Linked DNA regions of Homo sapiens: regions 1, 3, 4 and 5 are each linked to region 2. The links come from fine-mapping of genetic effects on gene expression. A gene starts in region 2. Each other region holds a variant in brackets. All regions are shown on one strand. Distances are from middle to middle.

Region 1 (5,102 bases), 26 kb after region 2:
ATTCAGACACTTCTTCTCTTCTCTCCTTCTCTGCCATGCTGCTCTGCTCCTCTGCCAGTGGAGTTTGGGGTTTTTATGGGTATAGGATGGGGGGCATGGTGGGCCAGGGTGGTTTTGGCAAAAGCAACACTCAGGTGGGAAAACAGGAATGTGAAGTTCTCATTTAGGGCCGTGGGCCCAGGCTTGTGGGTGGGGCTTTTGCCAGAGAGCTGTCCTCCTCTACCCAGTATTTCCCTGCCTCCTGTCCATATCACCTGCACCAAGAACCTCACTGGGTGGGAGCCAATCCAGAGCCAGAGAAAGGACTTGACACTTGGCCTCAGGCAGACCCAGGCTTGAATCCTGGCCCTGCCTCTGATGAGCAGGGTGACCTGAACTGTCTCAGGTTGCCTCGCTGACTCTGCTTTCCCATCTGGAACATGGGAATAGCAATGCATCAGCCACTCAGTGCAGTGTTGAGGCTGGAACAGGTGGGGCACACTGTGAGCTCCATTTCCTTTTGCCTCCACCCAGCAATTATGTCTGCTGGGGAGAAGAGGAGAAATAAGGATCACACCCTGCCCTCTATCAGTCAGTCAACGACCATTTATTAAACACCTACTAGGTGTCAGGCACTTGACAGAGAAATGAAATAACAACACAAGCAACTCTTATAGCTATACCCTATAATAAATGTTATAGAAGCAGGAGGCAGGTAGAGGTGGAAGAGAACCTTCTGCTTGCAGGGGGATATCAGTCAGAGAAACAGAACCAATAGGAGACACAGATTAAGAGATGTATTGCAAGGAACTGGCTTATGTGATTGTAGGGATGACTAGGCAAGTCAGAAGTCGCTTGGGAATGCCAGAACACTCAGCCTTGGACCGAAGCTCCTGCCCGCAAGCTGAATTTCTTCTTCTTCCAGGAAACCTCAGATCTGCTCTAAGTCCTTTCAACTGATTGACTCAGGCCCATGCAGGGAGTTGAGGACAAGCTTCCTTAGTGAAAGCCAGCTGGCTGTGGGCTGTCACCACACAGACAAACTGCTTCACCCCAACACCAAGATTAGCTTGAAATGGAATAACTGGGGCCTGTCATCCAGCCAGGTGGACCCACAGACTCACCGCAGCAGAGCACCTAGAGGCGGCCACGGAGGGTTAGTGACAGAGCAGAATCAGGCAGGGCACCCGGGCAGGGGGCAGACCCAGCAAAGGCTCCTAGGGCAGATTGTAGAAGAGGTCCTTGGAGATCAGGGAGTACAGCAACGTGGCTGTGGCACTATTAAATTAAATTAAATTAAATTGAAAATAAAATTAAATTAAAAAGGATTGGTGGCTCACGCCTGTAATCCCAGCACTTTGGGAGGCCGAGGCAGGTGGATCATGAGGTCAGGAGATCAAGACCATCCTGGCTAACACGGTGAAACCCTGTCTCTTCTAAAAATACAAAAAAAAAAAATTAGCCAGGTGTGGTGGCGGGCGCCTGTAGTACCAACTACTCGGGAGGCTGAGGCAGGAGAATGGCGTGAACCCGGGAGGCAGAGCTTGCAGTGAGCCGAGATCATGCCACTGCACTCCAGCCTGGGCTACAGAGCGAGACTCCGTCTCAACAAAAAAAAAAAATTAAAAAGGATTGGAATAAAGGAATGGTTTAGTAAACAAAAATAAACAAATGCAATGCCTTTTTTGAAGGCGTCATTACTACAGCCATGATGGAGCAACACGGATAAATTCCCATGACAGGAGGTTTCATGTAAAACCACGGTGACAGAACATAGTTGGATGTGGCATACATAAACAGCTGTGCCCAGGGATGGAACTCTGGGAGATTTTCCCATTAGTTTTAAATGCTCTTTCATGTAGTTATTCTTTTATTTTTATGTTTTTGAGACGGAGTCTCGCTCTGTCGCCCAGGCTGGAGTGCAACGGTGCGATCTCGGCTCACTGCAACCTCTGCCTCCTGGGTTCAAGTGATTCTCCCGCCTCAGCCCCCCAAGTAGCTGGGATTATAGGCGCCCGCCACCACACCCAGCTAATTTTTATATTTTTAGTAGAGACGGGGCTTAATATTAGTTTTAAATGCTCTTTGCTGTAGTTTTTTTTTTTTTTTGAGATGGAGTCTCGCTCCGTCACCTAGGTTGGAGTGCAACGGTGGGATCTCAGCTCACTGCAACCTCTGCCTCCCGGTTCAAGCGATTCTCCTGCCTCAGCCCCCCAAGTAGCTGGGATTATAGGCACCCACCATCATGCCCAGCTAATTTTTGTATTTTTGTAGAAGTGAGGTTTCACCATGTTGGCCAGGCTTGTCTTGAACTTCTGACCTCAGGTGATCCACCTGCCTTGGCCTCCCAAAGTGCTGGGATTACAGGCGTGAGCCACAGCACCCAGCCTAGTTATTTATTTATTTATTTTTTTTTTAAAGAGAGAGATGTTATTTTTTTTAAGGGGAATGAGTGGTATTAGGATGTCAAATGAAATTGCTTATTTAATAAAACTGAAAAGCCCAGTTTGGGGAAAGAAACAAAACACACTGAGCAGAATAATCTAA[C/G]CACAGTGAACAGGAAAAAAAGCCAAGAATAAAATAAGTTCCGGGGTATCCAAGGGTGAGCAAAGCCAGGCCGGCAGGCCTCCTCCTCCCTTGCAGAAAGCAGGATGGATGAGGGGCTCTGCTTCTCCAGGCTCCCTCATGTCCCCACTGAAAGTGTTTCCAGAACATTCCAGGCCCATAAAGTGTCCAAATGCTGGAAGGACTTACATGTATATGTCTGGGATTGAATCAAATCTTCTGACTCAATTCTCTTTGGGAGTTCTGAGAATGGAGGTCACTTCCCAGAACCCCGTCTTCCCCCTACAGACAGCTTTGGCCTTCTTTTCAGGGAAGAAAAGAAAAGGGACTCTTGGAAACCCTGCTGAGGGCCACGCAGCTCTGGTTGTTGAGGCTCATATGGTTTATGAGGCGCCATCACCCCCTTCCGCCACCCCCTGCCTGCTGTGGCCTGAGGCTTACCTTCGTGACTGCCCTAAAAACAGCATCCAGACTCAGTAACCACGTCAATCAGCTTTTAGAGGAAAACATTTATTCTGGGGAGGTGTCAGGGAAAGGATTCAGGAGATCTTGGTTCTTTCTAGCTCTGGCCTTGACATCGACTTGCTGGGTGGTCTGAAGGATTTCACTTATTTACAGAGCGAATATTGTTCAAGAGTTTGGGATGTGCAAAACTCAGCTGCAGGCGTGATGCAGGGTGGGAAGATGAGCAAGGCAGGGTCCTCCTCTCCAAGTACAGCGAATATGGTGGGACAGATGCACATGCACTTTATGCACGCATGCACGCACACCATGTGCTCAGCTGCCACTGAGAGGAGATAGGAGATGCAGAGGGAGAGGGAGAACAGCCGCCCTCTGACTAAGGATGGAGCCCAGCTGTCTCAAGAGCTCTCCTGGATGGACAGACTGGTGGCGTCCCAGCAAAATCCCCCATCTCTCCATCCGGCTGTGTAATGAATGACTGGAAACCTCAGCTGGCCTGTGAGCAGGAGATCTGGCCAGGTGGAAGGGAATCCCTGACACCCCACAGCCCCTGGTGTAGCTAAAGCAGACGGGCCTCCTGGGCTGGTGCAGGAAGAACAGCTTATGTTCTCGAACACATTGACCACGTGCTCCATGCATCTGACACACACGGACTCGTCTACTCCACACAGCACCCTAGGAGATGGGGCTGTTTAAAATACCAATCCCCACTGTATAGTTGAAAAAAACGAGGTGCAATGAGGTTAAATAACGAGCTCTAGAGAGGAGGACTCAATTCACAGTCAGCTTCCAGAGCCCATCGGCCTAACCGCCAGGCTGGCTTCCCGTCCGTAATGCACGTTTCCAGCTAGAGGCTTTCAGGCTGTGTTTCCCACACTTAGCCATTGACATTCACGTTCACAGTTTTTGCCACATCCATGTCACCTGTACAACCATTTCTTTAGTAGTGACTTACTTTTGAACTGCAACTTCATGTCACCAATTTAAATGGAAAATGAGTATCACTTATCATAAAAAAGATGATAACTGTACAAAATAAAAGCAATAGAATGTGAACAATGCTATTAGAGCCTGGGTAGATTCGGGGACCAGCCAAGGCTCTGAACCTGCTCAGTCTGTTGAAAAAGGAGATTACGCACATAGAAAGGCGTTGAAGTGCACGGACACCACGCTGAGACGTTCTTGTTGGCCTAATCAGGAGGAACGACTAGATTATTCAATTCAAGGTTGTTTACCAGGCCAAACTACTTCCCTTGCTGGGAAATGCTTCCCAGCTCTAACGTGCAGTCAGAAAATACGGGACACAAGTTGACATCCGAAGGAAAAATATCTTTTCCTTCTCCACTTCCGAGTTCTTGGTTGGGGGCCCTGAAACAAAAAACAGATGAACAAGAGAAAAGTGAACAAATTAATTTAATGTAAGTTTAATGTGACATGGGAACCTTCATAAGGAAATGAAGTGATTAAGCCTGAGTGCCTTTTTGTTTTTTTGAGACAGAGTCTCGCTCTATAGCCCAGGCTGGAGTGCAGTGGTGCGATACGGCTCACTGCAGCCTCGATCACCCCGGGCTCAGCTGATCCTCCCACCTCAGCCTCCCAGGTAGTTAGGACCAGGACTACAGGTGTGTGCCACCACGCTCACCTAATTTTTTGGTACTTTTTGTAGACACAGTCTCGGCTGTGTTGGCCAGGCTGGTCTCCCACTCCTGGGCTCAAGCGATCCGCCTGCCTCAGCCTCCCAAAGTGCTGGGGTCACAGGCATGAACCACTGTGACCGGCCTGAGTGTTTCCATTAGATGTCATGAACAGTGGAGAATCATGGGGCTGTGGTGGGACCAGGGGGCACGAGCGAAGTACAGAGAACTGGAGAAACAGCAAGGCCTGTCGGGGCTCCTCTCAGTGTCCCCAGTGCTCGGAGTGGACGGTGCCCCTTTCCTCTGGCTGTGGAGTCTGGTGTCCTGCTTCAGGGAACAATCACATAGTCCTTCTGCGCCTGCTGTTTCTTGGATTCTTTCCACTTAAAATATTCAACATGCGAAGCTGCCACATTTTGGGGTAGCGTGCCCTGAATCATTGGCTACAAGGTCGCGGGCCCC
Region 2 (5,102 bases):
GACAGGCGAATAAGTAAATGAATGGTTGGATAGGTGGATAGGCAGGTGGGCGGATGTGTGGGTAGATACCAGTGTAGATGAATGGAAGAGTGTGTAATTGTTTTATAAGATTAAAATATTCTTTTGATGGCAGGACACAACACAGTGACACTCAGATAAATGAAAGGTAGAACTTTTGTTTCTTACAGCTCCAAATGAGAGGCTGTCAGGCTGGGCCACACAGGATGTGCAACTGGGGACAGGGTCCAAGCAAGCTGGAGCTATAGGCGGCAGCTATGTGTGGCACGTAGGGTGGTGTTAACGAGGTTTCCTTGGCTCCCTATGGATTGGCTAACTTAAATAAGTTTGTGAGTTCCAGATGATGGGAGCTGTCCATTATTGTTTGGTACCTGGCTCCAAGGCCATCAGGGCAGGTGGCTAGTGGCCCAGAGTGTGAGAACCTGGTAAGAGAAAGGGCCAGAATGTGAACTTAATCAGCTGCTCATGAACTGGCTGGCCTCCAGCCAGGACCTCAAAACTGGTTTAAAGTAGCCTTTTTAAAAAACTATATGACAGAGATGGATGGAGATGTGTGCAGATGGACAGATGTCTTTTAGAGATTTCTGTCAATGATATTTACAGAAGCATCAACATTGGATTCAGATCCTTGAGGATTTTCAACTCATAGATACAGAGCTCTACAATATCTAAGTTGGAAGAGACTTCAGAGGGTCTCTGGACGCTCATGCAGGTCTCAATATGTTGTGGATCTCAGAGCTCTTCAATATTTTAGTGAAAGCTATAGATGAGGCTCCATAGGGGATAAAGCACAGACACACCTTTTCAGAGGGCTTGTGGACTCTGGGCAGCCTGTCCATAGACCTCTGTCCCCAACTGGCAAGTCAGGAAACTCCAGATTAAGGAGCCCCAATGTGGTTGAACAGCCAGGTGCACAGATGAGTCAACCACACAGCCAGGCCAGGGAGGGCCTTCACTCAAGAGCCTACAGCCAGTTCACAGCCAAGCCAGGGCTAGCGCCCAGGCCACCCATAAACTGATCTGAGACTCTGTTTCCCTGTCTCCATGATGATGGGATCAGGCTTGATTGCTGGTTTGTAGGCTTGTTATGAATCAAGTCACAGGGAAGAGGAGCTGATGGGCTGGGGGGACGTCCTCTGGCCCTCCTGTCTCTTCCCCAGATCCACTGGGCCCACTCTTATCTGTTCTCTTCTGAAGGAAGGGTTTTAAGGCTTCAAAAAAAAATGTTTTGAAAGTCCCTGCCCTTTCCAGCTCCTACCGTCTCAGCCCTGGGAGTGTAAAGTGCTGCAGATAGTTAGTAAGTCTTTGAGCAAAACTGAGAAAGCCAGCCTGAGCCTTGACATGGGAGAAACCTCCGCCATACATCTCCGAAGAAACGGCCGCGTGTCTCAGGGGAGCGCAAACACCCGTACCCAGGAAACAGGACAGCTTCTGCCACTGTCGCCCTTGGGAGCCGTACGTGGCATACAAAGAAATCCCAGGACTCCGCCTGCCCACCTGGCCACCCTCTGTTTACACCTTCCGCGTAAACGCCCACTGTTTACATCCAAAACTCAGACACAAAATAACCACCTCAAGAAGATAAATAATGATAAGAAATAAATGTTACGCGAGGCAAATTTATTCACATGGGGCTTCCCAGGCCACTTTGTGGTCAGCCGGGAGGGACGTTTTTGCCGTCCCACGACTCCAACGGGCAGCCGGGCTACGCAAACATGGAAATCTTCCAAGAGCCTCCCTGGCCCCCAGGGCTCAGAGGGTGGCAGAGCGGAGAGCGAAGGTGGCCGCAGCCTTCCCGGCCCCACAGCCAGCCTGGCTCCAGCTGGGCAGGAGTGCAGAGCTCAGCTGGAGGCGGAGGGGGAAGTGCCCAGGAGGCTGATGACATCACTACCCAGCCCTTGAAAGATGAGCTGTTCCCGCCGCCACTCCAGCTCTGGCTTCTGGGCTCCGAGGAGGGGTGGGGACGGTGGGGACGGTGGGGACATCAGGCTGCCCCGCAGTACCAGGGAGCGACTGAAGTGCCCATGCCGCTTGCTCCGGAGAAGGTGGGTGCCGGGCAGGGGCTGCTCCAGCCGCCTCACCTCTGCTGGGAGGACAAACTGTCCCAGCACAGAGGGAGGGAGGGAGGGCAGGCAGCGGGGAGAAGTTTCCCTGTGGTCGTGGGGAGTTGGGAAAAGTTCCCTTCCTTCCGGAGGGGAGGTCTGACAGGCGATGGGGAGAAGGGTTCCCAGCAGGAGGAATCGCCCTGTTTGTCTGTTGTAGGTTTCTCTTCTCTGAATCAAGGTGACAGACAGGCTTGTGTGTGTCCAGTGTGTGAGGGATTTCGTGATTGGATTTTCACATACTTTGAGTGGACACCTTGGAGTAAGGCAGCGAGGTGTGTGTGGTGCAGCAGGGACGGGTGCTGGGTGGAGGCTCCAGAACCTGGCTTTTCACCCACAGCTGTGCCACTCCTTGGCCCTGTGTGACCCTGGACAAGCTATTCAACCTCTCTGAGCCTCAGTTTCTCTGTCTGCAAAGCAGCCAGCTCGCTGGCTCCCTGGGGGTGGCAGGGTTAAATCAGAAGCAGGCGGGGGTGGGGGGGTTTGTGAATGTTGGCTGATGCGCCTCCAGGAGGCAGGTGGTAGTGACTACCTCAGATGGGCTTAGAGACCCTCTTCCCACGGTCCTGGCTGACCAGGGCAGGGGGATAGGATGGTGCAGGGGTTCCAAGCACCGGCTTTGCATCCGGCCCAGGTTGCAGCTCCAGCCCTGCTCTCACCCTGTGGGTGACGTTTTTGGGCGAGTTATTTTGTCCTGTCTCCTGAGCTATAAAGAAGACCTGGAAGTTCCTCTTTATGCAAAGATAGAGGTAGGCTCTTGCCTGTGAAGCACCACGTATGTCATAGGCACTAAATAAATGGCAGCCGTGATTCGAGTTGCTGAGAGTAGGTCGTTTCCGCAGCCTGGGTGGAGGTGAACAGCAGGTGTTGCTGTTCCAGGCAGGTCAGAATGTGCCTCACTGAGTCACAGGCCGCCTGTGGCTCCCCAGCCTACAGGAAGTGGGAGCCCTGGCCTGGGTGTGGGGTGATGGGGGCCTCCCTGGCCAACCCCGCCCCTAATTCCATTTCTGAGTTGGAGAAGGGCTTAGGTGGTGGGGGAACAGGTAAGCAACCCCAGAGGACATTGCAAAGAGGCCCTGCCCGAGGTTCTCTGGAGAAAAAACTGTGCTGCGTCCTTCGGGCCCTGGCAGCAGCAAGAGACATTCCACAGTTGTGAGCCCCACAAGCTTGGAGGAAGCATTTGCTGTTTCCCCTGCTTGGGGTGAGAGCAGGGGACAGCCAAGAGAAGGCGTCTTTGGATGAAAAAGAGGAAGCATGCGTGCTGTCCCCACAGGCAGCACCCCAGGCCTCATCCCAGCTCTCCCTGCAACCCTGCACTCCAAGCCTCTCACTGCACTGATGAGGAAACTGAGTCTCAGAGGGGGAACATGACCTCAGCCAGCCCTTCGCTCAGTGTCCAGGGAAATGCCTCAATCTCTTTGGGATTCCCTCCCTTGCAAACGGGGAGGTTCCCATGGTTGGGCCTGCATGATGGATCTGAGGACTTTGAAAGTGGTATTTGCCTGCCGGTGGGACCCAACCTGGAAATATTAGGTTGGTGCAAAAGTCATCTCGGTTCTTGCCATTAGAAGTAATGCCAAAAACCGCAATGACTTTTGCACCAACCGAATAGCTGTGCCACGTGGTTTTTGCTAACACAGTGACTGGCTCAGTAACAAGTTTGGTGGCTCCAGAGGTAACATTAGGGCGGCCTCCTCACCTGTGCTGCTTGTGGTCAGGGAGGGGCCCACCTGGGCGCGGTGGGGGGAGCCCTGCAGATTTGCCCAGTGTCATAGCCTGTTTGAGCTGCTATAAGAAATACTTTAGACTGGGTAATTTATCAAAAAACAGACATTTATTGCTCTCGGTGCTGGAGGCTGGGAAGCCCGAGATCAAGGCACTGGCAGATTGGGTGTCTGGTGAGGACCTAGTCGTCATAGATGGCACCTTCTATGCATCCTCATATGGTGGAAGGGTGAACACGCTCTCCCAGGCCTCCTTTAAAGACCACCAATCCCATTCACAAGGAGGGGGACCTCATGATCTAATCTCCCCCCAGAAGTCTCACCTTTTAATATCACCAGCTTGGAGATTAAGTCTCAACAGGTGAATTTTGGAGGGACACAGGCATTTGGATCATAGCACCGGGGGACTCTGGTTTTCAGAATGAAAGTAGGGGCCTTGTCTATCCGCTCAAGCTGCCTCCTCTGCACTGAAAACGATGCCTAGCCCAACATGGATGGATCAGTGTTTGCTGAAATGCTGAATGGTTAAATGAATAAATAAATATTGCTCATATAGCAGGCAATAAAAAAGCATACAGAACCTATCACTAAGTGAATGAAGCTACTCTGAAAAGGCATATGCTGTATGATTTCAACTATATGTGACATTCTGGAAAAAGGCAAAACTATGAAGACAGTAAAAAATAAAAAAAATCAGTGGTTGCCAGGAATTAGGGGAGGGAGGAGAGAATGGGAGGAGCCCAGAGACTTTTAGGGCAGTGAAACTTCTGTATGACACTGTAATGGTAGAGGCATGTCATTGTGCGTTTGTGCAAACCCACAGAATGTCCATCACCAAGAGTGAACCCTGATGAAAACTATGGACTTTGGGTGATGATGATGTGTCAACGCAGGTTCATCAATTACAACAAATTGACTGCTCTTGTGGGGGATGTCAGTAACGGGGGAGGCTACGTATGTGTAGGCACAGGGGATATATGGTAAGTCTCCGTACTTTCTGCTCAATTTTGCTGTGAATCTAAAACTGCTCTTTAAAAAAAAAAAGGCACACAGAGCAGATCTGCATGTTGTTTTGAGGATTCAGAAGGCACTTAGGACAATTACGGTACCTCAGGGTCATGAGTCAAACAATCAGACCTGCCAAGACTTGACACCCCAAATGCATCACTTCTGACATCCATTGGGTCCAGGAATCCCCTGCCTCATGAATATCCATCTTAGTGTGCATGCCTCCAAGAATGGGGAGCTCACTACTTTG
Region 3 (5,102 bases), 28 kb before region 2:
AGAAGTGAACACTCGCTGTGGCCACATAAGGCATCAGTTACCAGTAGAACCATCTCATGGGGTATGATGGAGACAAGAACCCAGGTAGAGAGGCTCTAGGAGAGGGTGAGAACGTGAGCCAGCAGCCAACGTGACTCTTCGAGGTGCTGTGAAGGAGGCAGAAAAGGAGGTGGTGAACAGAAGAAGATGGACAATCCAGGGGTGTTCAAAAGGGGCTGTGCGGGCTACTTAGGGACGTCTGGCAGGAAGGTGTCATTGATGACAGGGGAAAGAGATGGAAATAAGTAGAGAAACAAAGTCCTGGAGAGGGGGAGAGGGAAAGGGATCCTGAGCCATGTGCTTAGAAGCAGAGACCCATCTTCCACGTGGAGCATGTGGAGACCAAACATGCTGGCAGGCTGGGACCTGCTGAGCACTTCTCATCTGAGTACATAGACTCTCTCTATCAAACATGACAGGAGGCCACTGGCCAAGAGAGAGAGAAGAAAGCACCGTGGAAGATGTAGAGGAAGGAGTGGTGAACTAGGAAAGTGAAAGAGTACATTTCTAGGGAAGTGTGATGGATTTAGAGAAAGTGTTCATTGCCCTCTAGAGATCTGTGCTCCTAAATTTAAAGTGAGAGCAACTAGCAGCATTGTACGATGTTTCCCAGCCATAATCAGCTTCCAGGTGAGGGCTGAGGAAGAGCAGAGTTGGGGCAGAGATGTTTTGGAAGGTCATGAGGTGGAAAAATAGGAGACGATAGCAAGAGGGATTCTTGGAATCAAGACTGAATGGGGGTTGGGCGCAGTGGCTCACGCCTGCAATCCCAACACTTTGGGAGGCCAAGGCAAGTGGATCACCTGAAGTCAGGAGTTCAAGACCAGCCTGGCCAACATGGTAAAACCCTGTCTCTACTAAAAAAAATACAAAAATTAGCCAGATATGGTTATACATGCCTGTAATCCCAGCTGCTCTGGAGGCTGAGGCAGGAGAATGGATTGAACCCGGCAGGCAGAGGGTGCAGTGAGCCAAAATCGTGCCACTGCACTCCAGCCTGGGCAACAGAGCGAGACTCGATGGGTGGCTGGGCTGGGTGGCAGAGATGATCACTGGCTGTCCCTTGAGATCAGGCAACTGGAAATGCTTGGGATTAGACAGCGAAGTGGCTGCTGCTGGTGCCCTGTCCAAGCCCTTTCCAGACCCCAGGAGGCTGTGCTCTGTGCACTCTGCAGACCTTGGCCAATGCCAGCCTCATGGCTGCCACAAAGTTTGCCCCGGAGATAGAGGCACTAACTCATTGGTGCGCCAGAGCCCCCCATGGGATGAGGCAGAAGCTGGGCTCCAACCAGACCACCTGCTTAGCTTTTTCCACCTGCTGTATCCTGCTTCCTTTGCCCCCCTTTTCATGGGAGTACTCCCCAGTAAATCATCTGAGCAAGAATCCAACCTCAGGCTCCGCTTTAAGATCTATGAATTTTCATGTGCCAAGAACCATGATGGGGGTGGTGGTGGAGAAAGAGCCAGTGAATCCAGTACTAACAATATCGGTGAGCAAGGAGGGTGATGGGGCAGTCAGGAAATGACAGCTGGCAGGAGTCGGGGTCATGAAGAAGGACCATGCCTGTCAAAGGGGCTTTGAAAAGGAAGGAGACAGGTAGGGGACTGGCTGGAGGGCAAGGAAGGTATTGGCCCTACTACTTCCAGATCCTGCAATTATGGAGTGTGATAGAAAGAATTAGCCACGTAAGAAGATTTGGGGGAAAGCAGGACTTTCAACAGACAGCCAAGTTTGGGATGGTATAAGAGGGTGAAATGATCAGAACTCATGATAAACCAAGAGTTTTGGATGGCTCACAGGAAGGGGTGGATAAGCAAGGAAGGATGGGTGATGGGGTCAGATTAGGAAATATTCAGAGCATCTGTAGGAAGTGGAAAGTCTCAGATGATTCAGGAGGCTAAGGTTCTGCCAGAAGCTGAGGGGAAGGGACATTTAATTCTTGGTGGATTTGGTCCTGGGGCTGAGCGCTCATACTGACAAGTGCCCCAGGGCAACAGACTCAGCAGAAGGATGTCCGCCATCATGGATGGGAAGAGCAACTTTCTCAGGCCATTTATCCAGGTTCCTGAAAAACTAATTTAACTGGTTTGCATACACAAAACCAAGGGTTTAGTTGGGGTCTCCCTGCCTCTTGGGGATTTGGAGGAATTTCACCCAAACTCCCAACGTGTGGGCACTGAGCCTCCCAAGGATTCCTCCCCACCCCACCCTCCAACCCTCAAAATGATTTTTCTGGCTGTTTGACAGCTTGAATCTCCAGCGCTGCACTCCTGTATCCCGGAGGGACTGACTGTTTCCTGGCCTCAGCTCTCTGAACGTGAAGCTCAGGCTTTGCTTCAGCTGCCAAATTTTGTGAGTTGAGCAATTTAAGGCACAGAGGAGCAGGAGGAAGAGGGGCAGTGTGCGTGCATTGCTCTCTGCCAAGCTGGGGCTCACCGTTCCTCTCTTTTTCTCACCCCACTGACCTCAGCGTGAGTGCATGTGCACACACACACACACACACACACACACATGCTCACACACATCAGAGTAGTCAGCATCTCCCGTGGTCTGAAGGAGGATGTTTCTGCCCACACGCAGGCCCTGGGGGCTCAGCTTCCATTCCAAGTGCCTGTCCAGGAATTTATTTCCAAGACAT[A/G]CAATGCTCTTATTGAAAGAAATTTGGAAAGCAGTTTTGTCCCTCTGCGAAAACAATGTGGTGTCGTGGTCAGGGGTACAAACTCCGGGATCACGCCACAGCAAGGAGCTGAACCTTCCTGAGCCTTGATTTCCTAATCTAGACAATGGGGGTGATAATACCACAGTTGACATTTTCCAGCACTTTTCTTGGGCTTGGCACTAGGCCAAGCACTTTATAACCATCATCTTAGTTAATTCCAACATTAGCCTTACGAACTGGGAATTACTCTCACTGATCAAAGGATAAAAATGAAGTTCAATGAGTTTAAATAACTTGCCCACCATCTCCTGGTTTTTAGTTGGCTGAGCTAGGATTCCATGGCGGGTCTTTTTCACTTTGAAGCCTTTGCTCTTAAACTCTCTGCACCATACAGAGTCAGGAGCCCTCGGAGCACCTGCTGGCTCTGCCACTAACTTGACCCCCCTCCCCTTGGGCCTCAGTTGCCCAATCTGTAAAATGTAAAAAAGGTCCCTTCCAGCTCTATCTCAATTGAATTTTTGAAAATGGCAGTCTTGGCCTTGAAAGAGTTAACACAGATGCATGTGAGTCAAAAGTCCCTTCTTACTCTGCTTTGTCCCAAGTTTCCTAAGATAGCTTTGAAGACCAAAAGTGCATAACGGCTTAAGCTTGAAGGCAGAGTTTAGGAGGAGGTGAGCGTGCAAATAGCCACTGCAGTTCTTCTGGAAGGCCAGTACATTATCCCTAAATATTGCTTAACTTTTTATAGTGTCCTATTTTATCAGTGATGAGGCTTCCACCATGAAATCACAATATTAGAAACCGACTCAGAGAGCACTTGGGTTTAACAGAGAAACAGGCAGGGGAGGGGGGTTTCCTGAGGCCGCTCACATGCCAGGCTTCATCACAAGTTCAGTACACGGAGGGGAAGCTCAGGTCCTGAGAGGGTGGGGCGTACCCTGCTCCACCCACACACAAATCGCGGCAGAGCCAGGACCCTGAGCAGATCTTTGAGCCCAGGGCGTTCCTTCCGAGAGCTCCTCTGCCAGTGCCTGTCCTTTCTCATCTGTGTTTTTCCAGAATTTCTTAAACAACACTGGGGGATGAGGGGGGCTGCCCAGTGACCAGGGCTCTGGGCCCTACCTGGCTTCAACCTGAGCAACTTTGTTTTTATCAATCTAAGATTTTGTTGGAAAAAGGCTTTGGTTGCTTACAAAATTTTTTAAAGTTTATGTTCCAGCCTGGGTAACATGGCCAGACCTCATCTCTACAAATAATTTAAAAAAAAAAAATTAGCCAGGCATGTTGGCTCTTGCCTGTAGTCCCAGATACTAAGGAGACTGAGGAAAGAGGTCGAGATTGCAGTGAGGTATGATCGCTCCACTGCACTCCAGCCTGGGTGACAGAGCCAGACCCTGTTCCCCTGACAAAAGCAGTTTGGAAATGCAGCTACACTTTCCACATTCATTTTTTTTCTTGCTCCTAAATTGATTTCAGCAAAAAATGGAAGCTCCCTGACACCAGGAATGCAGAGAAGGGAGACATACAAAGCAGCTCTGCATTTGGGGCAAGGAATTCAATTGCGCTGTAGCAGTGTGAGTGTGTTTGTGTGTGATATGTGTGTGCATGGGTGCACGTGTGCATGCCCCACACCCACTCACAGCGAGTCAGGGTGACAGGTTTTGCACAGACATCCTGATCCTTGCTAAGAGGTAACCACAGCTGGCACCCATGGCCTTGTTTATGCTCCCAGATGCTGAGCAACACAAATGATAAATCCAAGCAAGTTGTTTGCCTGCAGAGTTCCCGGCCTGCTCCAAAGTTGCAGCTGGGGGAAACCCACAGGGCTCTAGACCCACCCGTGCAGGTAGAGCCCTTCCATGTGCTTGAAGATGGCACAGCGGGAAAGTCCCAGCAGCCAGGCCATCTGGTGGCTAAGAAATGAAGTTCCAGACAGAGCCCTGGGTTGGACACAGTCTGGTCTCAGATCAGACCTTGGTCTCTAGACCCCTGGCATGTCCTGGGCTTCAGCGGCCTTCCCCAGATGTCTTCCGGAGCCCTCAACTTCATGTTCACCCAGCTACAACCATCCCTCACCTCAGTGAGCTTCTGACTCTGTTCCAGCGCACACCTAGGCCAACAGGAAGCCACCCAGACCCCACGGCATGATGTGCGAAGCCCTTCATAGCCTGGGCCCACCAGGAAGGCACTCCATCAATTCACTCCTGACTTTATTCCTGAATTCAGGGATACACAAATGCATGATCCAGGATCTGTCTCCCCTCTGCGCCATCCAGAGCCTTGCCAGCACTTGGCAGAAAGGAGGTGGGATCAGAGCTGATGGAGAATAGAATAAATAAAAGAACCAATGAAATATGCAAGAGTCCACTGAACACTATAAAGAACTGAAATCATAAACGAAAG
Region 4 (5,086 bases), 59 kb after region 2:
CAAGGTTAATTCTCTGCTACACAATAGCTTTTGTTGGTATCTGTGAGGCTTTGCGGGGTTGAAGGAATCTCAGGTGTCACCCATTAATAACAATCATGACAGTGACAACTAATGTTTGCCACGTGCTTACAATAAGTCAGGAACCCTGCCAAGCACCGGGCGTATATTAACCTATCCAAGCTGGGGAAGAATGTTTAGGCTCTGAAGATTGTCTGGAGCCGCATAAATCCCGCAGTGTAGGCAGCTGCTCATTCTGCAGATAGTATTCTGTGGATCCCTGAGTTGGCTGTGGCCGGTTTTGCCAGCAGGAGGCCACGAAGCCATGAGCACAGGATGGGATCTACCCCTTGTGGGATCGCAGAGGGCTGGGAGATGCAGTCCTCCCTATGGAAAGAGACAGAGCTTTCTATCCCTCTCCCGGTGAAACTCAGCATGGGAGCATGGGAGGCAGGTCAGCTGCGTGGCTATGAACATGAGCTATGGGGTGCATGCAGACCAAGGTTCATAGTGTACACTGTACCCACCAGCTGTAGCTCCTCCAGCAAGCGTGGGAGGCCAGTCAGCTGCATGGCTGTGAGCACGGCCTCTGGGGTCCATGCAGACCAAGGTTCCTGGCGTAGCACTGTAACCACCACCTAGGTCTTCTCCGACAAGCTGGTTAACTTCTCTGAGCCTGGCTTTGTCATTCATCGCGTGGGGACAGGTGCAGCAGAAGAGAGCAGACAGAAGCACAGGATCTCAATCAGGCTCTTGAATCAGACTGCCTGGGTTTGAATCCAGGCCCTACTGACCAGCTGTGTGACCTCAGACAGGCGACTCCGGGTCTCAGCACTCAATTTTCTAATTGGCCAACTGGAGATGACAATGGCCCCTACCTTGAATGGCTGCCAGGAAGATTAAATGAGAAAATACTTAAATGTGAAACACTTAGAATGGCGCCTGGAACACAGACCATTAATACCATCTAACAGATGTTAGTTGTTATCCTTATTTATTACTCATGCTTTCCTTTCTCTTTTTTCTTTTCTCTCTCTCTCTCTCCTTTTTTTTTTTTTTTTTTTTGTTGTTGTTGTTGTTGTTGAGACAGGGTCTCAGTCCGTCGGCCCAGACTGAAGTGCAGTGGCACAATCATAGCTCGCTGCAGCCTCGACCTTCCAGGCTTAAACGATTCTCCCACCTCAGCCTCTCGAGTTGCTGGGACCACAGGTATGCACCACCATGCCCAGCTAATTTTTGTATTTTTTGTAAAGACAGGATTTCACCATGTTGCCCAGGCTGGTCTTGAACTCCTGGGTTCATCTGATCCATCTGCCTTGGCCTCCCAAAGTACTGAGATTACAGGTGTGAACCACCACACCCGGCCAATACTCATGTTTTTCAAGCCTGTAAGAGGAACCTCCTAGCACTGTCCCCACCCCGGCCACCACACTGGTCCCAGCCCCAACAGGTCAGCTTCCTTTGCTGTTCCCGGGCTTCCCTCAGCTCTATCTCAAGCCATGACCTCTGCCTCCATGTCTGCAGCCCCATGAGGCTGGGGCTGCTCTGTCCTGCATATCTCCAGTGCCTGGCAAGGGGCTGGCAAGAGGTAGAGGCTCATTAAATGCCTGTTAAAACCCTAATAGTAATAATAATAATGGTACAGTTGTTACTAAGACTAATCACTACCTTCCAAAGTCTTTCCTCTATGCAAGGCACGGAGCTAAGCACCCTGTAGATCCTGACAACAGCCCTCCCGTGATCCCACAAGAGAGACACGATTCTCTCCAATGTTTAAAAAGGAAAGTAAAAGTCAATGGTTCTAAGTAGCTCACACTGAGTGATTGTACCGGGATTTGGACTCAGGCACCATCCCTTAAACCAGAGGTCAGCAAACTTTTCCCCCTCAGGAACAGATGGTAAATATCTTCAGCTTTGCAAGCCAGACAGTCTCTGTTACAAGCGCTCGACTCCCCCTTGTAGCATGAACACAGCTGTAGATAATACGTCCAGGAATGGGTGTGGCTCTGTGCCAATAAAACTTTATTGTCCAAAAACAGGTGACAGGTTGGTTTGGCTCATAGGCTGTAGTCTGCCACTTCCTGTTTTATTCTACCTTCTGTTCATTTCAGGTCACTGTGCATGGCATCATCCTGGCCCCCTCTAGAGCTCCAATCCTCCAACCAGAGCCAGCTCTTCCCTCAAAATGCTACGGCCTGTGACAATGCTCCAGAAGCCTGGGACCTGCTGCACAGAGTGCTGCC[A/G]ACATTTATCATCTCCATCTGTTTCTTCGGCCTCCTAGGGAACCTTTTTGTCCTGTTGGTCTTCCTCCTGCCCCGGCGGCAACTGAACGTGGCAGAAATCTACCTGGCCAACCTGGCAGCCTCTGATCTGGTGTTTGTCTTGGGCTTGCCCTTCTGGGCAGAGAATATCTGGAACCAGTTTAACTGGCCTTTCGGAGCCCTCCTCTGCCGTGTCATCAACGGGGTCATCAAGGCCAATTTGTTCATCAGCATCTTCCTGGTGGTGGCCATCAGCCAGGACCGCTACCGCGTGCTGGTGCACCCTATGGCCAGCCGGAGGCAGCAGCGGCGGAGGCAGGCCCGGGTCACCTGCGTGCTCATCTGGGTTGTGGGGGGCCTCTTGAGCATCCCCACATTCCTGCTGCGATCCATCCAAGCCGTCCCAGATCTGAACATCACCGCCTGCATCCTGCTCCTCCCCCATGAGGCCTGGCACTTTGCAAGGATTGTGGAGTTAAATATTCTGGGTTTCCTCCTACCACTGGCTGCGATCGTCTTCTTCAACTACCACATCCTGGCCTCCCTGCGAACGCGGGAGGAGGTCAGCAGGACAAGGTGCGGGGGCCGCAAGGATAGCAAGACCACAGCGCTGATCCTCACGCTCGTGGTTGCCTTCCTGGTCTGCTGGGCCCCTTACCACTTCTTTGCCTTCCTGGAATTCTTATTCCAGGTGCAAGCAGTCCGAGGCTGCTTTTGGGAGGACTTCATTGACCTGGGCCTGCAATTGGCCAACTTCTTTGCCTTCACTAACAGCTCCCTGAATCCAGTAATTTATGTCTTTGTGGGCCGGCTCTTCAGGACCAAGGTCTGGGAACTTTATAAACAATGCACCCCTAAAAGTCTTGCTCCAATATCTTCATCCCATAGGAAAGAAATCTTCCAACTTTTCTGGCGGAATTAAAACAGCATTGAACCAAGAAGCTTGGCTTTCTTATCAATTCTTTGTGACATAATAAATGCTATTGTGATAGGCTAAATGATTACTCCCGTAGATTGGGGGGTACCTAATCCCTGGACTTGATGAATGTTACCAAATTAAGGGTCTTGAGATGGGGAGATGATCCTGAATTATCCAAGTGGGCCCTATATAATCACAAGGGTCCTTATAGGAGGGAGGCAGGAGGCTCAGAGTCAGGAGATGTGACTATGGAAGCAGAGGCCAGAGGAATTCAGGACGGCCACTACGAGCCAAGGATTGCAGGCACCCTCTAGAGGCTGTAAAGGGCAAGGAAATGGCTTCTCCCCTGGAGCCTCCAGAAGGAATGGGTCCTGCCAACTCCCTGTCTTCAGCCCAGGGAAACAGATTTAGGATTTCTGGCCTCCAGAACTGTTAGAGGATACATTTGTGTTTTGTTTTGCTTTGTTTGCTTTGCTTTGCTTTGCTTTTTTGAGATGGGGTCTCGCTCTGTCACCCAGGCTGGAGTGCACTGGCACAATCACGGCTCACTGCAGCCTCAACTTCCCAGACTCAAGGGATCCTCCCACCTCAGCCTCCTGTAGCTGAGACTACAGGTGTGCACCACCATGCCTGGCTAACTTTTCTATTTTTTGTAGAGATGGTGTCTTCCTGCATTGCCTAGGCTGGTCTCAAACTCAAGGGCTCAAGTGATCCTCCACTTTGGTCTCCCATAGTGCTAGGATTATAGGCGTGGCCACTGCGCCTGGCCCCATTTGTATTTTAAGCCACCGAGTTTCTGGTAATTTGTCATAGCAGCAGCAGGAAACAAATAACAAGTATCGGGTAATGGCCTCTCTTATTACACTTCCATTTGTCTATTCAAAGCTTTCTAGGCTAACTGCCAGGAATACAGGGATGGTATAGCTAGAAGTTCTATATTCAAGGAACTTACATACATCTAAATATTATAATATAAAAAATGAAATGAGAAATTGCATGAACACACCACGGATCCAGCATCTTGCGCCTTCAGCGAGAAAGGGGATGGGTTCCCTCTCAGGTTAGCAGAGAAGACGCTGTGAAGGGAGTCAGCCGTGAGCCTGGTTTCCACAAAGGGTGCAATCTGGATACGTGGAGACAGGGAGGAAGGGCTGGCAGAGGCGGGAAAGGGTGAGCTGCTCACAAAAGAATGCTTGTGCATGCTCTTATTGAACGTGTAATGCATTGGTGCGGGTCTTGCTATGAGAGACCCAACGGTGAGCCTAACGGTGTCTCTACCCTCCAGGGGCTCACAGCAACCAGGACAATAATTAAGGGATTGTCATAGAGCAGGATGCCCGCCACCATCAGGGTGAGGGGTGCCGTGAGAACCAGAGCAGGGCTCCAGTCTGGGTGGCTGGGAGGGATGGTTAGAGAGGGGTTCCTGGAGGAAGAGACACATAAACTGAATCCCAAAAAATGAGAAGCTGGCCAAGCAAAATGGGGGAAAGGAGTGTTCCAGACAGAAGGAACAAAGTAGGCCCAGAGGCAGGTGGGGTTACAGGTTAGGAGGGAGAGGTTGAAGGATGGCAGAGGAGGAGGCGGGTCATGGAGAGAATTGGGGCTGGAGGAGAATGGACAGGCTGGGTCCACCATGGTCAGCTGGCAAAGACAGTTCACCCAGGAAGGATGGTGGGCTCCAGGCAGCTTTGAGGGCCCCATTGAAGCTGGAAAGCGTGGCTGTGTTGTGTGAATTTACTCTGATAATGCTCGACAGACCCAGGAAAGGATTGCTCTGGAGTAGGGTTTAGCCAGATAGACGGCCATACGTCATGGGAGTTGGGGATCCTGGTCAGACTCGGGGGAATGATGGAGAGGGAAGAAACGAGCACAGGGAGAGAAGGAAGTGAAGTGAGATCAGTGTGTTAAA
Region 5 (5,102 bases), 40 kb after region 2:
TCAGGGACTGTTCCTGTCTCAGCAACCAAGGGATTGTTCCTGTCAATCAATGGTTTATTGGAAGGTGGCCCAGTATGAGCCCTAGAAGAGTGTGAAAAGGAATGGCAATGGTGTTCACCATCGGCAGTGCCAGGGCAGCACTCATTCACTTGATAAATGAATATTTATTAGCTGGTTGGAGAGCTAGAACCTGGAGAGCTAGAACCTGGAGAACTAGAACCTGGAGGGCTAGAACTGGAGAGGCTAGAACCAAGAAGGGCTAGAACCTGGAGGGGCTAGAACCTAGAGAAGCTAAAACCTGAGCTAGAAGCTGGAGGACTAGAACCTGGAGGGCTGGAATCTGGAGAGCTAGAACCTGGAGGGCTAGAACCTGGAGGGCTAGAATCTGGAGAGCTAGAACCTGGAGGGCTAGAATCTGGAGAGCTAGAACCTGGAGGGCTAGAACCTGGAGAGCTAGAACCTAGAAGGGCTAGAACCTGGAGGGCTGGAATCTGGAGAGCTAGAACCTGGAGGGCTAGAACCTGGAGGGCTAGAACCTAGAAGGGCTAGAACCTGGAGGGCTGGAATCTGGAGAGCTAGAACCTGGAGGGCTAGAACCTGGAGGGCTAGAACCTAGAAGGGCTAGAACCTGGAGGGCTAGAACCTGGCAGGTTAGAACCTAGAAGGGCTAGAACCTGGAGAGCCAGAACCTGGAGGGCTAGAACCTGGAAGGGCTAGAACCTGTAGAGCTAGAACATGGAGAGCTAGAACCCGGCAGGCTAGAACCTGGCAAGCTAGAACCTGGAGGGAATGAACCTGGAGGGCTAGAACCTGGAGAATGAGAAAAATTTACATGGCAAAGAGCCCATAAATCCTGACCAATCCAACTCTGAATTTTAAAGCAAAAGCGTCAAAAAAAAGATTCCCTCCTTACCCCCAACCCACTCTTTTTTCCCACCACCCACTCTCCTCTGCCTCAGTAAGTATCTGGAGGAAGAAAACAGGTGAAAGAAGAAGTAAAAACCATTTAGTATTAGTATTAGAATGAAGTCAAACTGTGCCACACATGGTGAATGAAAAAAAAAAAAAGAGGCTGTGTTTTGTCACACAGGGCAGTCATTCAGCACCAGAGCACGTGATGGTCTGAGACTCTCTTAGGAGCAGAGCTCTGCCGCAATGGCCATGTGGGGATCCACACCTGGTCTGAGGGGCAACTGAGTCTGCGGGAGAAGAGCGGCCCTATGCATGGTGTAGATGCCCTGATAAAGAACATCTGTCCTGTGAAAGACTCAATGAGCTGTTATGTTGTAAACAGGAAGCATTTCACATCCAAACGAGAAAATCATGTAAACATGTGTCTTTTCTGTAGAGCATAATAAATGGATGAGGTTTTTGCATAGCTCTAGCATTTGTTACAACTCCCGAAACCCCCGAGTTTGGTCCCTGGGGTACCGCCTTGCACACTCAGAAGCCTTTGGGAAGGGGTGCTATTCATTTCTGCTCAATCTGTTAACAGGCTTCTGGCATGTAGATCAGTGGTCTCCAAGCTTTTGTGATTGTATATTCCTATAGGAAAAAAAGAATTGATTATGCATACCCAGTATGTATACTTATTAATCTGTATGAAGATGTACATTCTAAAATATAATCAACCAGTAGAAATTTAAGAAAGAAGATGTAAAAAAAAAAAATATTAACAGTGCTTGAATATTTCCTTCCATCTTACATTTCTGCAGGGATAACTCATTACCAAGTTCCCACTACATGAATGTGAGACCCTCATGAGGCCTAGAATCATAGGCGCAGCAGCGATTCAATCATTTATTCATGCAATATAGACTTACTGAGTGCCTACCACTTGACTTCCCTTCAAATCAGGAGTATCTTCTACAATATCCTGATGAAAAGCCACTTGTTTCATACTCCCAGTGATGGGGAATTCATTATCCATGCCACTTTGGGATCCCTTCATTATTCATGTATTCATTCCTTCACTCATTTATTAAACAAAACTTGCCTAGTCTGTCTCCATAAATGCCCCTCCTCCATCCATGCATCCATCCATCCATGCCAGGAACCTGGGGCTCATCGCTCAACGTACCCTCTCCTTCATCTGTTCCATCTGGTGGGTCAGCACCTCTTTTATTTTTTTCTAACTTTTATTTTGAGTTCAGGGGTACACGTGCAGGTTTGTTACATAGATAAACTTGGGTCATGGTGGTTTGTTGTACAGATTATTTCATCACCCAAGCATTAAGCCTACTACCCATTAGTTATTTTTCCTGCTCCTCTCCCTCCTCCCAACCCCCACCCTCCACTAGACCTCAGTGTCTGTTGTTCCCTTCTTTGTGTCCATGTGTTCTCACCATTTAGCTCCCACTTACAAATGAGAACATGTGGTATTTGGTTTTCTGTTCTTGGGTTAGTTCGCTAAGAATAATGGCCTCCAGCTCCATCCATGTCCCCGCAGAGGACATGATCTCATTCTTTTTTATGGCTGCATAGTGTTCCATGGTTGTATATGTACCGCATTTTCTTTATCCAGTCTATAATTGATGGGCACTTACATTGACTCCATGCCTTTGCCATTGTGAATAGTGCTGCAGTGAGCACTCATGTGCATGTGTATTTATGATAGAATGATTTATATTCCTTTGGGTATATACCCAGTAATAGGATCAGCACCTCTTTTAGATTCTACTCACTAAGTGTTTCCTAAATCTATGTTTCCTTCTATGTCCAACCATCGTCTGTCATGGGTGCCTCCAATACTAACTACTACCATCTCCCAATTCTTATTCTTCACTCTGCAGCCAACATGGTCTTTTAAGAATGCAAATACATTCATGGGGAGGCTATAAACATAGAGAACTGTGTTCAGGAGCCAAGACTTTAGGATTAGGTAGACCTGGATTCCACTTGTGGTTCAGCCTTGGGCTCTTATTTGCTGTGTAGTCTTGGGTACCTCAGTTATCCTTTCTGAGTCAACATTTCCTTGTCTGCAAAATGGGGATAATAATGGTATCTACCTCATAAAATTGTTAATAGGATTAATGTATGAAAGCATCTAGCACAGTGCCTGGTACATAGTTGGCACTGAACATGTACTAGCTTTGATGATGATGATGATGATGATGATGATGATG[A/G]TGGTGGTGGTGTTGGCAGTGAGTGTGATGGGGGCATCCTCCAAGGGAAACCCTTCCATAGTGTCCCACCCCTCTTGCGATAAGGTTCTACAGCTGTAACATGGCTTGCAAGACCCTTCATGATCTGGTCCCTGTCTTGTCTCTATGTCTCCCTCTCTCTGCTCCAGGCTCATTCTCTACCCTCCAGCCATTTGGACACAAGAACCTAGACAGATCCCAGAAGATATTTCATTCTGCCTCCAGTGCCCACTCTTCCCACCCAGACTGCACCCCCTCACTAAGTGCCCTGAACTTGGAGGAAGTTGTCCACAAGTGCCCAAGGGAGCTCACTCCTCCAGGGAATTTTGTTCACAGATGCCTGCATTACTCAAGGGAGTCTGCAATCCAGGGGAAACCACATGCCTGGAAACCTGAGCAGGGCTCTTAGCAGGCAAAAAAAGAAAAAAAAAATGCTGGGAGAGCCTCCCCAGCGAGGCAACAGGAGCAGCCCCTCAACTCCTGACCCTCTCTGGCTCCAGCAAGCTGGCGCAATGAGAAGAAGTCCAGGTGGGCTCAGGAGACCAGGCAAGGGGCCTAGCTCCTGAGTCTTCCCTGGCCACAGAGGGGTGAGAATAGGATGCAGAGATGCAAACTGGACACCAGATGACCTCATGGGAATTCATGCTAGTGCTGGAGCCTCTTGAGCACAGCCTTCATGACTCAGAGGGGGAGTGTCTCCATTGTGTAGATCCCAGCCATGTGCTGCATTATCTCCTTGTTACCCAATTCCTGACCCTTATGTAGCTCTGATCCTTCACCAAGGATGAGGGTGGGGAGCAGGGATGAGCAACAGAGGTCATGATTTGGCAACAGCAATGGCTGAAAGTTTAATCGTTTGTTCATGAGAGTTTTATTCTGGTTTTAGTTTTTTATTTTGTTTTGCTGGCTGAGGCAAAATAGTCCCAGGTCAAAGGGACCCCATCAAAATACTTCACGCTCACAACCACTCTGGGAGTTTGCATGATCACTGGTTCATGGTATGGAAACTGGGGCCCAGAGAGGGAAGTAACTTTCCAAGGCCATGCAGTTCTTAAGGAGGGTGCTCTGGAAATTCTCTCTGTTCTTGGGGTGTTCATGCCTTAACAAACCGAGGATACAAATTCTGTCACAGGAAAAGTCCTCGAAGTGCCTTCTTGCATGACGAGCTTATGACCCAGGGCTTGGGCTATTTCTGCCACAATAAAAGCTTTGCATCTCATAGGCCTTGTGCATACTTGCTTCCTGCAGATCACCTTCCCAGAGCTGGTGGATGTAATTCACATGCCGTAGAGTTTACCCACTTCAGCTTTTACTTAATAACCAATTCATGCAACCATCACTACTGTCTAATTCCAGAACACTTTCATCATCCCCCAAGAAATCGCATATTCATTAACAGTCACGTCCCATTCTCCCTTCCTCATGGCTTTGGGCAACCACTAATCTTTCTGTCTCTAGATTTACCTGTTGTGAAAGAAGCCAGGCACATGTTGTAGGATGCTGTCTCTGTAGAGCCTATAACACATGCCTTTTGTGTCTAGCTCCTTTTACCTCCTAACACTGAGCTAGAATGTTTAATTGTTGGGGGAGAATTTTGGGGACCAGTCCATGGGTTCCCTACCATGCCACTTGTGTGATCTCAGCAAGCCACTTTACTCATCTTCCCTCCCACCACCTTTGGCCTTAGTTTTCTCGTCTGTCAAGTGGAGAGATAATAAGTCATGACTCTAACAGGTTTCTGGCATGTAGATCAGTGGTCTCGAAGGACTGCCTTATGTGATGTTGATGCTGTCCTCTATAGTTTACGAAGGCCCCAGCACCAACAGTACAGGGGCTTGGAGGCAGGTTCCTGGTTCACATCTTACCTCTGCCACTTCCCAGCTGTGGGAATTTGAAGAAGGTCAGTGAATTTCTCTGAGTGTCTCTTTTCTCATCTATTAAATGAAGATCCAAGTATTG

Which allele goes with the higher level. Alleles are on the strand shown, and positions count from the first base shown. SD is a standard deviation of normalised expression in the study named. Not every link is listed here.
In carriers of allele A in region 3, the expression in fibroblasts of the gene that starts at base 1,943 in region 2 tends to be lower than with G alone (moderate effect, 0.46 SD a copy in GTEx).

What was found. PIP is the estimated chance that this variant, and not a neighbour inherited with it, causes the effect.
Region 1: its variant is fine-mapped to the expression of BDKRB2 in breast (GTEx, PIP above 0.99).
Region 3: its variant is fine-mapped to the expression of BDKRB2 in fibroblasts (GTEx, PIP above 0.99).
Region 4: its variant is fine-mapped to the expression of BDKRB2 in cerebellar hemisphere (GTEx, PIP above 0.99). The same link has a PIP of 0.9 or more in cerebellum.
Region 5: its variant is fine-mapped to the expression of BDKRB2 in prefrontal cortex (ROSMAP, PIP 0.95).

The regions. Positions count from the first base shown.
Region 1 is chr14:96,228,548-96,233,649 of GRCh38, forward strand. The region is part of intron 1 of BDKRB2 (bradykinin receptor B2); the gene reads left to right. Among named protein-coding and RNA genes, the nearest start is that of BDKRB1, 25 kb to the right of the region's middle. RefSeq lists a silencer at 2,785-2,980. The variant C/G (reference allele first, on the strand shown) is at 2,527.
Region 2 is chr14:96,202,897-96,207,998 of GRCh38, forward strand. It overlaps BDKRB2 (bradykinin receptor B2), which reads left to right and starts at 1,943. Exons shown (of 3, transcript NM_001379692.1): 1 at 1,943-2,063. RefSeq lists an enhancer at 1,404-2,279.
Region 3 is chr14:96,174,536-96,179,637 of GRCh38, forward strand. No RefSeq gene overlaps it. Among named protein-coding and RNA genes, the nearest start is that of BDKRB2, 28 kb to the right of the region's middle. RefSeq lists an enhancer at 1,151-1,651. The variant A/G (reference allele first, on the strand shown) is at 2,679.
Region 4 is chr14:96,261,565-96,266,650 of GRCh38, forward strand. It overlaps BDKRB1 (bradykinin receptor B1), which reads left to right. Exons shown (of 3, transcript NM_000710.4): 2 at 1,088-1,206; 3 at 2,109-3,199. The coding sequence starts at 2,119. The coding sequence ends at 3,180. The region is part of intron 1 of BDKRB1-AS1 (BDKRB1 antisense RNA 1); the gene reads right to left. Among named protein-coding and RNA genes, the nearest start is that of BDKRB1-AS1, 4.5 kb to the right of the region's middle. The variant A/G (reference allele first, on the strand shown) is at 2,241.
Region 5 is chr14:96,242,789-96,247,890 of GRCh38, forward strand. BDKRB2 (bradykinin receptor B2) reads left to right here. Exons shown (of 3, transcript NM_001379692.1): 3 at 1-1,376. Among named protein-coding and RNA genes, the nearest start is that of BDKRB1, 11 kb to the right of the region's middle. The variant A/G (reference allele first, on the strand shown) is at 3,126.